2 separate regions of the Homo sapiens genome follow, and region 1 is linked to region 2. The links come from fine-mapping of genetic effects on gene expression. Tissue or cell type: fibroblasts. Region 2 holds a variant in brackets; the other region holds the start of a gene. All regions are shown on one strand. Distances are between the middles of the regions.

Region 1 (7,353 bases), 390 kb before region 2:
CTTAGGTCTACAAACTTTTCTAGGTCTCACTCTGGGTAGAAGTCATACAATCTGAGGTGCTGATAAATGAGAAGTGCATGAACTAGATTTAATTTGGTATGTTTCATATTTCATTTGTCATATTTCAAAGACCATCTCAAGACATAAGAAAAAGTAATCAGAATGTTTGAAAAGGGGCTTGCCTTCTAAAAATATAACAATGTTTCTTTACGTAAAAAACAAAACAAAACAGAAAATCCAGCTACTCCTAGAAGTATGGGTTATATGTGGGGAGAAGAATGAGATTGCTGAACTCACTGCAGAAAAGGTGACTTTTAAAAGGTAACCTTGAGTTATGTCATGAACTTTCAATGCCATTTATTTCAGAACTACTCCCAAATAAAAGAACTGGAGTATGTTAGGCCCTCCTGTATGTCCAGCGTTGGGGGAGGATTACTTGTGTACTAATATTATTACAACACACTAAATCCTGAAACCCTATTACAAAATCTACCCTCTAGGCAACTTCTCCCAAACTTATTGTTCAACCATGTAAAAACAGTCATAACCTAAAACCATTACTACTGAAGAAAAAGAGGAGGGGGTGGGGAGAGGTGAGGAAAGAAGGCTGGGAGGGGGTGTTTCCTAGGGAGCCCCTAACAGTTTACTGCTTCTTTAGGACAATGTACCAGCTTTTGCGAAGAAAAAAGAAAGGAAGGAAGAGAAAGAAATCAAAAGAAGGAGAGAAAAGAGAAAGAAAGGAAACTTGATTGAGTTACTTAACTTACCTCAAAGCTCAAATAAACTAAATTGAAAAAAATAGTACTAATAAAGAATAATGGTAAGAGGTAGTGAACTCCTTTTATATTATTGCTTTATGAGAAGACTTAACTATTAAAAATTCCTGATACTGAAGGCAAAAGGCAAAGATCTTCCACGCATCATTTCTCCTCGAAGGCCGAGACTTTTTTTTTTTAAATGTAGAAAACCAGTACAAATTTACAAAACACACTATATAATGCTCTCTTATCTCTAGTTTGCTTTTTTGTGTACAAACTGTTAACCTGAACAGTTTTCCGGTGCAAAAGGTCTCACCAGAAACTTTAGGAAAGATGAGTGTGACTGCGGGAAGCAGAAGAAACTAAGCTGAGAAAACCCGGAAAAATACTCGGCGCAGCTGCTGCGGCCTTGGGTCATCTCACCTCCATCTACCCCGCGTGCTCGCTTTCGCTTGGGGTGGAAAGCGGGGTTCAGGGGCTCTTTTCAGCGGACTGAGAAATCGCAGAGGCCGTGGGTAAGGATTCAAGCTTGAGGAAACACTGGGGGCCGGGAGGAGGGCTATTGTAAAGCATTTCTTAATTAATTTCAAGTCCTCCATTTTTTTACAGGGACCCCAAGTCAGGATTCCCCTTTCCCGACATCAGGGGTAAAGGGAGCGGGGGTCCCTTCGCTTCACTGTGCCCCAGCTCTACCGAGAGGCAGGCCTCTGGGAAACGAGCCGGGGACCTGGGGGCCCGGGCGGCCGCAGCTTAGTGGGCTGAGGTGCCGATCAGGGTCACGCTTCGGAGCTCTGTCGGGGCCCAGCTCCCTCCTTCACACCCCAAAATGCCGCCTAGGGCGTGGGCATCCCGAGTGGCATCCGGAGCCGCTGAGACCCCGCCGAGATTGCTCCTTGTGCGTCCTCCCACAGCCGAGAGGCCAGCATCGTGCCGGGACGACCCGGGGACCCGAGTCCGGGCGCCGCTACACCGCCTCGGGCGCTAGGCCTGGGAGCTTTGAGGCCGGTACCGTGAAACACCTTTAGGAGCAAGGAGGGATTCCAGGTGTCCTCCCTTTGTACCCCAACTCCCTGCCCGGATCTCTTCCACTCTCTGCCATAGCCCCCACACACAAACTTTGTTCTGGACTTGTTCAGCCCCTTCGGGACCCACAGTTGTCGCCTCCATCGGAGAAAACAAGTGCCCCTGTTTCAGGGGGGATTCCACTCTGGCTGGCCACCCGCAAACCTGGAAAACTATTCTATGACTTCTTCCCTGACCCCCCTGGAAGTAGGGAGCACCACGATCCGCAGAGGGCGCATACCGACCAGAAAGATTTTGGGGGGCAGAGGGTGCAAGTGTTGTGGGAAGAGATGCGGAGATAAATTTTGCGAGCCAGACCCCGACACTTTCCCCGTCCGTTTGCACCGTCTCCGGAACAACTGGCGGCCAGCAGCACTCTCCACCCCGGCCGCAACCCCAGCGGGTCAGGCGCTGGCGCCCCGACACCAGTCCCCATCTTCTTGCAGCTCTGAACCTCCAAAGACACCCGGTTCTGCCTCGCAGGCCGAGGGGGAGTGTGCGTGGGGGCAGGGGGGCGCAGCGAACTCCCCCACGCTCGGAGTTCAGCCCAGCGCCCGAAGTAAACTTCCTTACCGCTGGCAGCAAGGCCGGGCGGCGGAGGCCGGGCCGGGTGCCCTGGGGCCGGCGCCGGGAGCGCTAGGGGCCCCGTGCGGTCAGGCCGGGGCGACCTCCACCCGCACCCACGCCTCATGGGGCTCCCGGGTCTTGGCCGCGGCTGGGATCCCCGGAAAAGCAGGGACGGAGAAGCCAGGCCGGCATGCCCGCCCTCCTTCCCCCGGGAGGACCCAACAACTCCGGAAAGATCCTGCCGGGAGATGTGCTCGCTTTCCCCGGGGCAGCGGGGGAAAGCCCAGCAAAGGCACATTGAAAATTAAAAAGAAAAAAAAAATTACGCCGAGTGGAAGAAGCAATCGGGGCCGCGGCGGCGGTGAGGTAGGGGGCGCGGGGGCCAGCCGCGTGTGAGTGGGTCCGAGTGTGCGTGAGTGTGAGTGCGTGTGTGTGTGTCCACGGCGCGGGCCGGAGCACTCACCATCTCGCCGGGGGAGCGAGGCCACTTCGGGGTCGGATTGGAAATGTTGAGGCTTCGCTTGCTTCCTCCGCGACATGCTGGCTCAAACATCAGCTGGGGCAGAATAAAAAATTACTAAAAAAAAATCTTCTCAAAATTACGGAAATCGAGCGGCGGCGGCGGCGGCGGCTCCCCCCGCCCGCCGGCCCGCCCGCCCCCTCCCCGGCTCCCCGGCCCCGGGCGCAGCGCGCATGTGTCCTGCTATAATTATGATTATCAATAATGCATTGCGATTAATCATAGAGGGGCTCTTTGAAAGGCGATTGGCACCGGGCCAGCGCTATTCAAACCCGCTCGCCTTAATCAATTAGTTCGTGATTTGCTGCAGACCCCTGTCTCTCCGCGCGCTGGCCCAATAAGCCGGCCGCGGGGCTGGCTCTGCGCGCCGCGCCGCCCGACACTGGGTTAACCCTCTTTGCGACCGCCCGGGACTCCGCGGCCCGGCCGCCGGGGGCCGGCCTCCTCTCCACTGCGGGCCCGGCGCCCCGGCAGGCGCCCCCCGCTCTCTCCCTCTCCCCTCCCTCTTCCCTCCCTCCTTCGCCCCCCCCCACAATCCCGGGCTGGGCCGACCCAAATTAGCATGCCCTCCCCGGAATTGAGCCGCCCCGGGTGGGGGGTGGGGCCGGGCGGCGAGGGCTGGGGACCCGGGCTGCCGGCGCGCTGCGAACTTCCCAACTCGGGGGCGAGGCGCGCCGGCCCGCGGGGGGAGGGAGTCCCGCGGCGGGATCAGGGGGGAGGGCGTCCCGTTTCGTGAGTGTTTCTTCGTTTCTTTAAGAGCTACCAGAAAGCAGCCCACCCCCACCCCCATTAAAAAAAAAAATAAGCGAGTGGGGAAGAGCCAGCCCCACGCCGGTCCGCCTCCCGCCCACGGCTCGGCCTCCCTCCCGCCTGGCTCGGCGCTCCTCCGCCCCGAGTTCTCCATCCCCTGGATCCCGGGCTCGCGGGGGCGCGGAGAAGAGGATCCAGGAAAGGTTTGGGAACCTGATGGGTTTGTGGCTGGGGGGAGGGGCAGTTCTCCCGCCACCCCATCCCCTCCCCGCCAGGGGCACTGATCCTCCAGCTTCTTGCTTGCTCCCTCGCTCCCTTTCTCTACCTCGGACATTCCCAGGACAATTAGGGCTGAAGTTTTCGGGAGAAGCAGCCCCGAGCCCGTGGGATAAGGGGGCGGCCCGGCTCCGCCCAGGACCCCTCCCGGACCTCCCCCCCGGCTGCCCCGGTTGGCTGCAGGGCGCGTCACTCCGCGGGGAGGCGGCGGCAGCGGTGGCGCCGCAGAGCCCCGGGCGGGCGGAGAGCGGGGACCGGCCTGGGCTCCGAGTTCAGCTCCGGCCGGGGGGAGGGGAGGGGCTGCGGCTCACACTGAGCGCAGCAGCGAGCACCGGCCTAGGGAGACACAGCCCGGGCGGACCCGGCACTGGACTGGGCCAGTCCCTGGGACCCCTGGGCACCCCGCCCTGGGGAGGGGGCCGCGCCCCAGCCTTCCGGGACGAGGTGGCGGCGCAGAGCCGGAAAGCGGGGTGGGGGGAGGGCGGTGGGGAGGTGTTCTGTCCGAGGCTGCCTGGCGGCGCCGAAGCTCGCCTCCACTTTTTGGGCACTTGCCGAGCGCGGCGCCCGAACTTTTCGCTCTATCACCATCTCCCTCAAGCTGAGATGCAACCTCCCTACCCTCGCCCCAGAGCCCAGAGCCAGGAGCCCGATCCCTCTGCCGGGCTCAGGCGCCCGCGAACCTGAGACTCGGTACGCGGCTCAGCCTAGCTCTTTCCCCTCGCGCCTCGGGGTCTCCTCGCTCCAAGGTTCTCGAAGTCTTGCGCCCGAAGGACTAAACTAAACTAAACTTCGGCTGAGTAATGGGGGAGGAGGGGGGTGCAGATACACAATCCCTGCCCTATCTCACGATCAGGAAAGGAGAGGGCTCATAAGGACGCCCCAATTCGCGAGCGCCCTTGAGTCTGGCCGGTGCCACGGTCGGTTCGCGCGAAGTGGGCACCGGTCTCCCGAGCCGACTTCGTGTACTCCGGACCTGTACTGCGCTCCGGTAGAGGACCCTTCCCTTTCTCTTAGCTTCTTAAATCTTTTCTTTTAAGGTGTAAATGTGTGTGTGTGCCGATGAATGTTTCTGTTTTTCATCTGCTGACTTTATTTTTTTTTATTGGTATAACTTCTCCCTTCTCTCTCCCTGCTCGTCCGTTTTCCACCTTTTCTCTTACTTATCTTCTGCCCTCGCTCACTCCCTAACACACACATTCACACCCTCTCCGCCTCGCTCTCCCGTTCTCGCCAGGTCCTGATGGGTACAGTAGATTTTGATAAAAAGACAAACGAAGCTATCAGTGGGGCTGATGTTGAAGAATGAAGATAATAATGTTTCCATAGGTGGTGCTTCAAATGCCATTATTTCTCACTGAATATTTAAAGAGATCCCTCGGCAAAGATGGATCTGCGCACTCCTGGGGTGTGAGCGGCTCGCATCTCCCAGACCCCGGGGAACGTGTACGGGAGCACGTGTAAATCCCGCACCCGCCTCCATCTCACAAACAGGGGTCCTCGCACACCCACCAATCCACACTGTCCCAGGTACACGAACGCGTTTGTGTGCACTTGCACACTCCTTTCCCGGAATGTGCCCGTGTTTGGAGCCGCCCGCATCCTTCTCTAACAATCTTGGCTTCTTGAAAGTCCGGGCCTCCCGGGCACCGCATGCAGCCAGGAACCTAGCGGAGCTGGCGGTCCCGCAAAGCTTTTCTCCTGGTGCGCGCCGCGTGCGCAGCAGGAAGCTCCCGGGAATAACTTCACACGTGTTTGTTACTTGGTCTACGTGTGATTTAAGATTAAGTGTAGGAAAAAAAAAAATTCCCCCCCCCCAAAAAAACACCACAACAAACAACCAAACGAAATGAACATGCGAAAAGCAGCTACGCGATGCTTAATTAAAAATGGGCGAGCAGAGACGAATAAATTGGGGGATCCAAACTTTAATAACTTTTTTCGTTTTTTTGCGTCCTCGACGGCGTAGAGGCGGGCGTTTCGATCTGCGCTTGGCGTCCCCCGCTAATTTCTTGTTTGTTTTCTTTCCCTCGGTGGCCCCGGGAAAGGAGATGGGAGGTGGAGGAGGGGGGGATGGGAGGAGGGGGATGGTCGGAATGGCGGGGAGAGGAGAATTGGTCTTTATTGTTGATGGCAATACATCAATTACGGGCCATTGTCTCGGTCCCAAGTTCCGTGGTTCGCTGGTGCGGGCGCTGCAGTGTCAGGGCGCTGGCGAGGCTCCGCGTGCCGCGATGCAAAGAAATACATCAATAAAAACAGAAGCAGAGTGGGGGTTATTCTTTATTTTTGTGCGGGTCGAAAGTAGGCGGCGAGCGGGAGTGAGGTGCCACTCCTGGAGTCCCTCCACGCGCCCTGCTCACCCCAGAGACCTGCGCGCTCTACGTGCGGTAGCACCCTCCTAACTCTGGGTGGAGGTGGGGTGGGGGGGGGACTACTGGGGAATCCGGGTAGCGAAGTTTGGACTTGCAGGTTCCGCCAGAGGGCCTGGTACTTAGGGGCTGATCCGCAATAGCGAATGGGGATAGCCCGAAGTGAGGCGGCAGCTGCGCCGGGGTCGCGACCTCACTGGCGGAGAGGAACCGCACCCGGGGGAGGCGCTTGGCGAGTTTTGCAAACTCCCATCTTGGGGGATTGATGCTCGTTCCTACTAATACGTCCCCTTAGTTTTCCCAAGTCCTAGAGTATCCTTGGTGGGTTGGCGGGGCCGAAGGTCTGTGCCCCAAGGCCGCAGGCCACAACTGGGGTCCCAGCCATGAGGTTTCCAGGCTTCTTTGCTCAACCTCTGGTCCTACGAAGGGCAACGTGGGGGGCGTCAAGGCTCGCGCATTCTGAGGCCTGGTTCTTCTACCCTCAAAAGTATCTTATTCTGGCCCGATCTGACCTCGGGTCTGGGATGGGGCCTGGGATGAGGCCTTGCCTGGGCCCCAGACCCTCTTTTCCGTTCCGTTGACGGTGCTTGGCCACCCTACCCCAGAAATGGAGGACGTCTCCAAGTGCTCTCCCTGCACCCCTGTTTCCTCAGTCCCCAGCTCAAGGCCCCGCTGGCCCCCGGCCGAGGCTAGAAGGGCAGTAGTGGAGGTTTCGTTTTCTTAAGCAAGGCAAAAAGCGGCGAAAAGGCGGCAGCGGCGCCCCGGGGGCGGGGGACGAGGCACATCGATGGTATCAACATTATTGATGGGGAAAAGTTCGGGGCAGGAGCCCGGAGATCAGGTTCCCAGTCCCTCCCCTGCCCGGAGGTGGGTGGGACAGAGCGGGTGGCCAGCTGTGTGTGTGTGTGCATGTGTGTGTGTTGGTGGGGGGGTGTTCCTGAATGCACCCGCATTAACCACCTGGGGTTTATTTGTATTTTCCTTGTCTGAAAGTTTGCGGGGGCAGAGGGAAAAGGAAGGGTTGAGGTGGCTTGTACCCTCTAGCCCTTAG
Region 2 (7,353 bases):
CCAGCTGGGAGGGAGGCCTCTTCATTGTGTTTTATTATTGGCTCTTGTGTACAACCAGAAAGGCACCCCCCTCCTCGGGGCATGCTTGGTTGCTACGATCTGTTCCTGGGGGATGGTGTACATCCCGAATGGCATCCCCCTCCTTGCCAGACAGGCTTGGGTAGCTCAATTACCCAAGCAGCATTTTGATACCAGACACTTCCAAGTTCCACCTGCATCTCAGCCTGTGTAAAAAAAGACAAGCTGAGCAGCTCTCCCATCACCATGCTTGGGGAATATCTGCAGGAGAACTCGCTCCCCACTAGACAAATATTGCTCATCTCTTCCTAAGCAAGAGATTCCAAGGTGATTTGGTTTTGCCTTGTTTTTAACTGTCAACATCCTCTTCTAAGGCGCCAGGCATTCTTAGTTTGCTGCTCTAAGGAGTTAGGGTTATGTATCTCCTCATGGCTTGGAAACTGACCCTCCCTGGTCTGTGCATTTCACAGTCATTGGAGGCCTCTGCAAAGGTTTGGCAAATATTTTTTGAGCATTGGCTTCATGGCAGGCCCCTGTCTGGGGATAAATTTCCAGGGATGGAATACAGTGATGAACAAGACAGACATGAGCGATTGGGAGGCTTGCAGTGTAGTGGAAAAGAGGACCATGAATTTAATGCTCACATAAATATGCAGACAGAGAAGTGAAAAGGACAGTCCACAATAAGGGTTTGCCTTACTGGGAAGTAGATAGGGCATGGCAGAATTGAAGAGTTTCCTAAGGAGGGCCCATTTGAGCTGATAACTGTGTGCTGAACAAAGAAGTCTGAAATGCCAGTCTGGGAAGGAAGCAGGGATAACCACTAGCTCAAGAGAGGCACTTTTTTTTCTTTTTTTTTTTTTTTGAGACAGAGTCTTGCTGTGTCACCCAGGCTGGAGTGCAATGGCATGATTTCAGCTCACTGCAACCTCTGCCTCCTGGGCTCAAATGATTCTCCTGCCTCAGCCTCCTGAGCAGCTGGGATTACAAGTGCCCACCACCATGCTCAGCTGATTTTTGTATTTTTAGTAGAGACGGGGTTTCACCATGTTGGCCAGGCTGGTCTTGAACTCCTGACCTAGTGATCTGCCCACCTCAGCCTCCCAAAGTACTGGACTACAGGTGTGAGCCACCACGCCCAGCCAAGGGGGCACTTTTTAACTGGGTAGGGACACTGACTTACCCAAGGGCACTCAGCAAGCCAGTGGTAGGGTCACAGCAAAACTCCCTGCAGTCAAGGAAGATGCTTAAACACAAGGACTCTTCGTCAAAAGGAGCTAGGGCTGACACACTGGAATGCCTCATTCCTTAGTCTTTCTGAGTCTTCATTTCCTCACCTGTGGCATGAGAATGATAGCAACCACTCCACACAGGAATATTTTGAGATATAATTAGAATAAGTATGCAATGTGCTTGAGCACAAAAAATATTAGCTGTTACAGTCATTTATTCTTATTTCGTCTTTGGAAGCAACTCTATAAGACTGAAAGAAAGAGAAGTACCACCTCCCCAAATACTGGCCCAAAAATCTTTTATTTTAAAAGACAAAGAAAGAGCCACAGATCACACATGCATGGATCCATTCAAAATATTTATTTATTAAGTTCTTACTAATGGTAAAGGCATTATTTAAGGTGGTAGGAGAGAGAAAGGGGACTGTGAAATAGATTTCCTGCCCTCGGGGTCAGATTACCTGTTTGAGGAGTTCCCAAGTTTCAGAAAATCAGATGTGAGGGCTGAGACATCATCTTGATTATCCCATCATTTCATAGGTGGGGAAACTGAGGCCTGGATCAGGAGGTTGGTGGCTGATCTTAGCCCTCGGGCCATTTTCCCTGCACCTTCTCTCTGTTTTTACCAGCGGCAGCCCTTTGATCTCAGAATCTGCTTTATGCCCCTCACTGAAGAACTGCCTTTGCGGAATTGTCAAAAGATGCTTGTGGAGAGTTGGAAAAAGCCCCCACCCTTATCTTTCTGAGGAGGAGCAGAGGAGGCTGAGCTCTTTCAGCATCCTCTGAAATTTTATCAGTGCGTATCAGAGAGCCACTGCATAGGGAGCTGGCTGGTGCGTGCTTTTTTATGTAGGCTTCTTCTTCCTTTCAATGGACAGTTCTCAGTGCTTCCCAGACTCCTCCTTCTAATTCAGGTATCCTGTCCCCATTGCAAACCTGCCCAGGATGGGGTACGTTTCTGGGCTCAATTATCACAAGTTGTCCTTGCCTATATGGATATACTGCATTATTTCATCTCTTAAAGGGGGCATGATGTGGCCAGGCATGGTGGCTCACGCCTGTAATCCCAGCCCTTTGGGAGGTTGAGGCGGGTGGATCACAAGGCCAAGAGATCGAGACCAGCCTGGCCAACATGGTGAAACCCTGTTTCTACTGAAAATACAAAAAATTAGCTGGGTGTGGTGGCGTGCACCTGTAGTCCCAGCTACTCAGGAGGCTGAGGCAGGAGAATCACTTGAACCCAGGAGGCAGAGGTTGCAGTGAGCCGAGATTGCACCACCGCACTCCAGCCTGGCAACAGAGCAAGACTCCATCTAAAAAAAAAAAAAAAGTTGGGAGGTGGGGCATGGTGCAAGGCAAAGCTGCTTGAGGTGTATCCTGGTACAAAAATGGTTTCTCTGAGACAATAATCTCCATTTTCCACAGCCAGACTTGACTTAGCTGATGGTTTGGAGGTGCTGCTTGCCAATCCTTGGACTGAAGTTTTTAATTTCCAACAGCATGGCAAACAACATTTTATTTCTGGTTTATTTACAGATACATTTTCAGGGGCTGGACTGAGTGGGAGCGTTCTTGGACTAGGGTGGTAGGGATGCCGGGTCAGCCCACAAAGCAACATGGCCTGGGCATGAGGCTTCTCTGAAGAACGCATTTGGGGAGCCACCCAGGCCCCTGCCTCTGGGACAGTGTTTGGGGACCCTATTCAAATGGCGGAGAGCTGCCTTCCTAGCCTGTGATGCAAGGCTCTGCTGCCAGTGCTATGTATCAACAACTACCCTGGAAGTCCTTCCTGTAATTAACCCCAGCTTCAGGGACACTGCTATTTGCACATCAGTTCTCTCCTAAACACCGCCTCTTTGCCATTATTCCCTAGGAAGATGAGTCACTGAAGGAGATGGCTTATCTCAACTCAGTTTTTAACTAGCTTTTGTCTCCTGGAGATATTTGTCGATGATACTTAACAACATTTCAAACCAGGCACTTCTTTTCCCCTTCAACTTTTTTTTTAATAACATTTTCTTCCTTTCTGCTTTTATATTTCTTCCTCTCCCTCCCATAGCCTTTCATGCATTCAGGATGTAAGAGAACCGGCATCAAAGCCCAGAGCCCTGCTGAATCCTCCTCCCCTATAGTAAGCGTGCCCTTTTCCTGTCTGATCATTGACTCATAACCACAGAA[C/T]GTCCCAGGCACAGGATGGGGGAGAGGGAGGGCTGAATAAGAGGTACCACGGTCTGCAGCCCCAGAGGAGACAAAAGTTGAGGATTTGTTGAACAGGACTTTTTTTCCCCTTTGGGGATAATTGTCCAGGACACTCTGAGCTGACCCAGTCCAGGGTGGGAGTGAGGGGAAGCCAGCACCCCACCCCCAACCCATCAACTGGTGACTCCAACCAAGTGAGACTCCTGTGGTCAGGCTCCAAGTCCCAAGGCCAGGCCAGTCACCAGCCCATGCCCTGGGCACCACCAAGACTTTTGATTGCATTATTTAATTTTAAAGAGATTGAACATATGTGTATTGATTGCATACTATGTGCTGGACTTTGAGCTGACAGGTGACAAATACAGGCAGGCTTAAACGCTGTGGAAGTTACTGTCCCCCTCCTACAAGACAGAATTTCCAGGCCAGAGACAGCCCCGAGCTCCCCACACTGCCCAGGTCCTCCCTCCCCTTCTGTCTCCATTAGGGATGAATGGGGATCACATCTGTTTCTTTTCTTGCTGAAAAGCAAGAGGCAAAGACCCTAAAATGGGGACAGACCAGCACACACCTGGGTGGTCTTTAAATTAGAGAAAAGGATTTTTTTGCCAGAGTTCCTCATTTAAGCCTGCATTCTCAATATTTTTCATTGCTCTCTGCCCCTGTAGGTTGGGAGAAATGAGGTGGGTCGGGGGCAGGACTCTGGTGGGGGCATAACAGGGTACCCCCCCGCATTGTCCCATTCCTCTCTGGGGTTCACGCATGTTTCTCTCCACCATGTTTCCAGCACTGGATTCCTCACTGGGCTGGCCAAGCATGGTCCAGGCACTAACAGCTCAGTGGGAGAGGCAGCGGCGGGTGCAGGCCATGAGGCTGCAACCATTTCCATTTTAGTATACATGTGCAGTTTAGGTCCTTTGGAAAATTAAATTGTTAATGTTCTGGCTTGGTATTATTTTTATTTTAAGTGTAGAGTCTCAAGCCAGACTCTCTGGGGCAAAATCTCTGTGTTATAGCTGCCTGGCTTTGGAAACTGTGCCTCAGTTTTCTTGTCTATAAAATGGAGATAATAAAAGTCCGACCTCCTTGGGCTGTGAGCAACATTTGAGACTAGGTGTGAGCTCTGGTTTGTTGCTGGGGGCAGCCTCTAATGGTCTGCTTCTGCCTTCCTGCCCCACATTGAGACACCTTCCTCAGAGAGTTGTTGTGTCTCATTGAGAAACCTGGACATCTGTGGTTTCACTCAGCACTTTCTTTGTTAATTAAAATCACAAAGTAAGAAATAAGATGCCCAGGGTGAGTCACTCTCCTGGAGTCACCAGGCTCGGGCTTTCTCAGGGTAGTGGTGTTAGAGAAGTATACACCAAATATTATATGGGGATGCAATTATACTAACAAATTATTTGGTTGCCTGAAATTCAAGTTTAACTGGGGCATCCCATATTTTTATTTACAAAATCTTACAATCCTATCTGAGGATTTTTTTTTTAAACTGGTGATTTGGTCCGATGCCCAGTATCCCTAAAGTAGACACAGGCCAGATGGGCTTCTAGAAATGGCTCTTCTCACCCGGCATGGAGGCTCACATCTGTAACTCTAACACTTTGGGAGGCGGAGATGGGAGAATTGCTTGAGCCCAGAAGTTCAAGACCAGCCTGGGGTACATGGTGAAACCCTGTAGCTACACAAATAAATAAATAAGCTGTGTGTGGTGGCATAGTGGTTCATGCCTGTAGTTCCAGCTACTTAGGAGCCTGAGGTTGGAGGTTGCTTGAGCCCTGGCGGTCAAGGTTGCAGTGAGCCATGATCCTGCCACTGTACTCCAGCCTGGGTGACAGAGTGAGACCCTGTCTCAAACCAAACAAACAAACAAACAAACAGAAAGGCTCTTCTCAGGAATATTTGAAAGCCTTAGAGCAGACGGAAAGAGAAAGGGGTGTCAATGGGAACTCACGTCTTCCCTGTTTCTTATGAAAATAGTGACAGCCATTCTTAAAGTAGCTGCCTATGGCTAAGAGGACAGAAAAATATGCCTTCTGGAGGTGTTGTGGTTTTTTTAGGCTTCAATATAGTTGTGTGTGTGTGTGTGTGTGTGTGTATGTGTGTGTTATTAGGAGAGCAGGGGCCATGGGAGCAATTCAATTAGTGGCTTCTATACATCTGAGGGTCCTATGAACTATGTGATAGGCAACATATATGCCGTTCATTTTTGTATAAACATATACAATGTTTACCCAAACTGCTTGGTATAACAGTTTAACTTTCCAAGTTCTTCTTGCTTAATTAACATATTCTGAGTTACAGAAAATTCTAATTCATTCATGAATGGGAGCGATTAAGTGGAGGAGGAATCAGCTATAAGGCATACTCCTGTGGTTGCTTTTTAGAGTTTGCCAAGGGAACCATTAAGTGAGCCTAGTTAGGCTTTTGTGTTTGTTATGTGAGGGGGGGCTGATAAGAATTATTATTATTACTTATAATTGTGAACAAAAAGTAAAATTACTGTCTTATGGGAGATTTATTGAGTGTTCATTTCATAGACCATGCTTCTTAATGAGCCAAATCGTGATCCACTGGGCTTATAACGTCAATGAGTGTAGCTTGAGTAAGAATGTTGTTTAGAAAACGTGTGTGTGTGTGTGTGTGTGTGTGTGTGTGTGTGTGTGTTTCTTTTTCTTTCTTTCTTTTCCTCCAAAGAGAGTGATGAGAGAAATTTAGTCTCTGGCCACAACAGTGGTGTGATTCAGATCCCAGCATTTATAGAGGCAAATTAGTTGGTGCACCAGCATACTAATGTGGCAGACACCAGCCTGAAGGCAGAGGGGCTAGAGGAGGGGCTTTCTCTAGGAGATGCTTAAAGGTGACCAGAGACCCAAAGACAGACTTTTAGGATGGAACAGCCCCCTGAGTCAAAAGAGGAAGTTTGCTTCGGTCTTTGTATTTTCCAAATGTTCTTTTCTCCTTTCTTTGCAAAACGGCAGATAAATATAATTTTCTATTGTTACATCAGTAAGTTTTGATCCAAGTCCCACAGTGAATAAATAACTATATAAATAAATACATACATAAATGAGGTCATCATTTCTTATTTAGATTTTTAGAGGAGATGGCTAGGAAATACTTTACCAAAATTAAAATTCCAATCTACATTTAGAGTGGCTAGATGATATTTCAGCCACTCCGTGCCTGATCTTTTCAAAAGCATGAGCTCCTTTGCCTCTTAATTCCACAGCTTCTCTTTGAGAGAGAGTGAGGGACGAATTTGTAGGCTGGAGTTTGTGGCATGGCAGGAAATCAGAGACAAACTCTCAGAGATTAAAGGAGCTGGGACTTAAGGGTAAAAATATAATGGAAGCCAGTTTTTGACAGAAACTTTTTCCAATACATGTGCAGCCATCATGGCCAAAAAACATAATTTACATTCACCTCTTTACCTGCAAGACAAGTTACTTTGGTTCCTTTCATTAATTGGATTTACAATGCATCCTTTATGAATTATAAAGTAGTTTGATTTAAAAATACCTCATTTTCCCTTCCATGTAACTTTATCTAGGATTTTCAAATCTCACTTTTGTGAATAAGTCACTCCAGTTTAGCTCCTAGGCATTGCGCAGGATCACCTGCCGCATGGGTTGCCACTCGCCTCACCCTATTTTAAGATTTTTTAAAACTTAATTACGACAAGATGGAATATCCCTCTGTCAACAAGTCTTGGTAACTGCTGGCTCACTCTTTTTCTTCTTACCCAGGGCCCATCCTTTTTCTTCTCAAATCCTATTTAATTTTTGCATTTCCTGATTTTTATCTTGGGAAAACAAAAACCAGCTGCAGTCAGTTAAGGAAACAGCTGAGGGATGCTGGCAGGTAGAGGCCTTGCAGATTTTCAGCCTGAAATTGTGAAAACTGA

What was found. PIP is the estimated chance that this variant, and not a neighbour inherited with it, causes the effect.
Region 1: it holds the start of SALL1, and the variant in region 2 is fine-mapped to the expression of SALL1 in fibroblasts (GTEx, PIP above 0.99).

The regions. Positions count from the first base shown.
Region 1 is chr16:51,148,316-51,155,668 of GRCh38, forward strand. SALL1 (spalt like transcription factor 1) reads right to left here and starts at 2,955. Exons shown (of 3, transcript NM_002968.3): 1 at 2,851-2,955. The coding sequence starts at 2,926. RefSeq lists enhancers at 2,152-2,652, 6,308-7,297, 7,298-7,353.
Region 2 is chr16:51,535,780-51,543,132 of GRCh38, forward strand. No RefSeq gene overlaps it. Among named protein-coding and RNA genes, the nearest start is that of HNRNPA1L3, 110 kb to the right of the region's middle. RefSeq lists enhancers at 3,499-4,113, 4,114-4,727, 7,035-7,353. The variant C/T (reference allele first, on the strand shown) is at 3,429.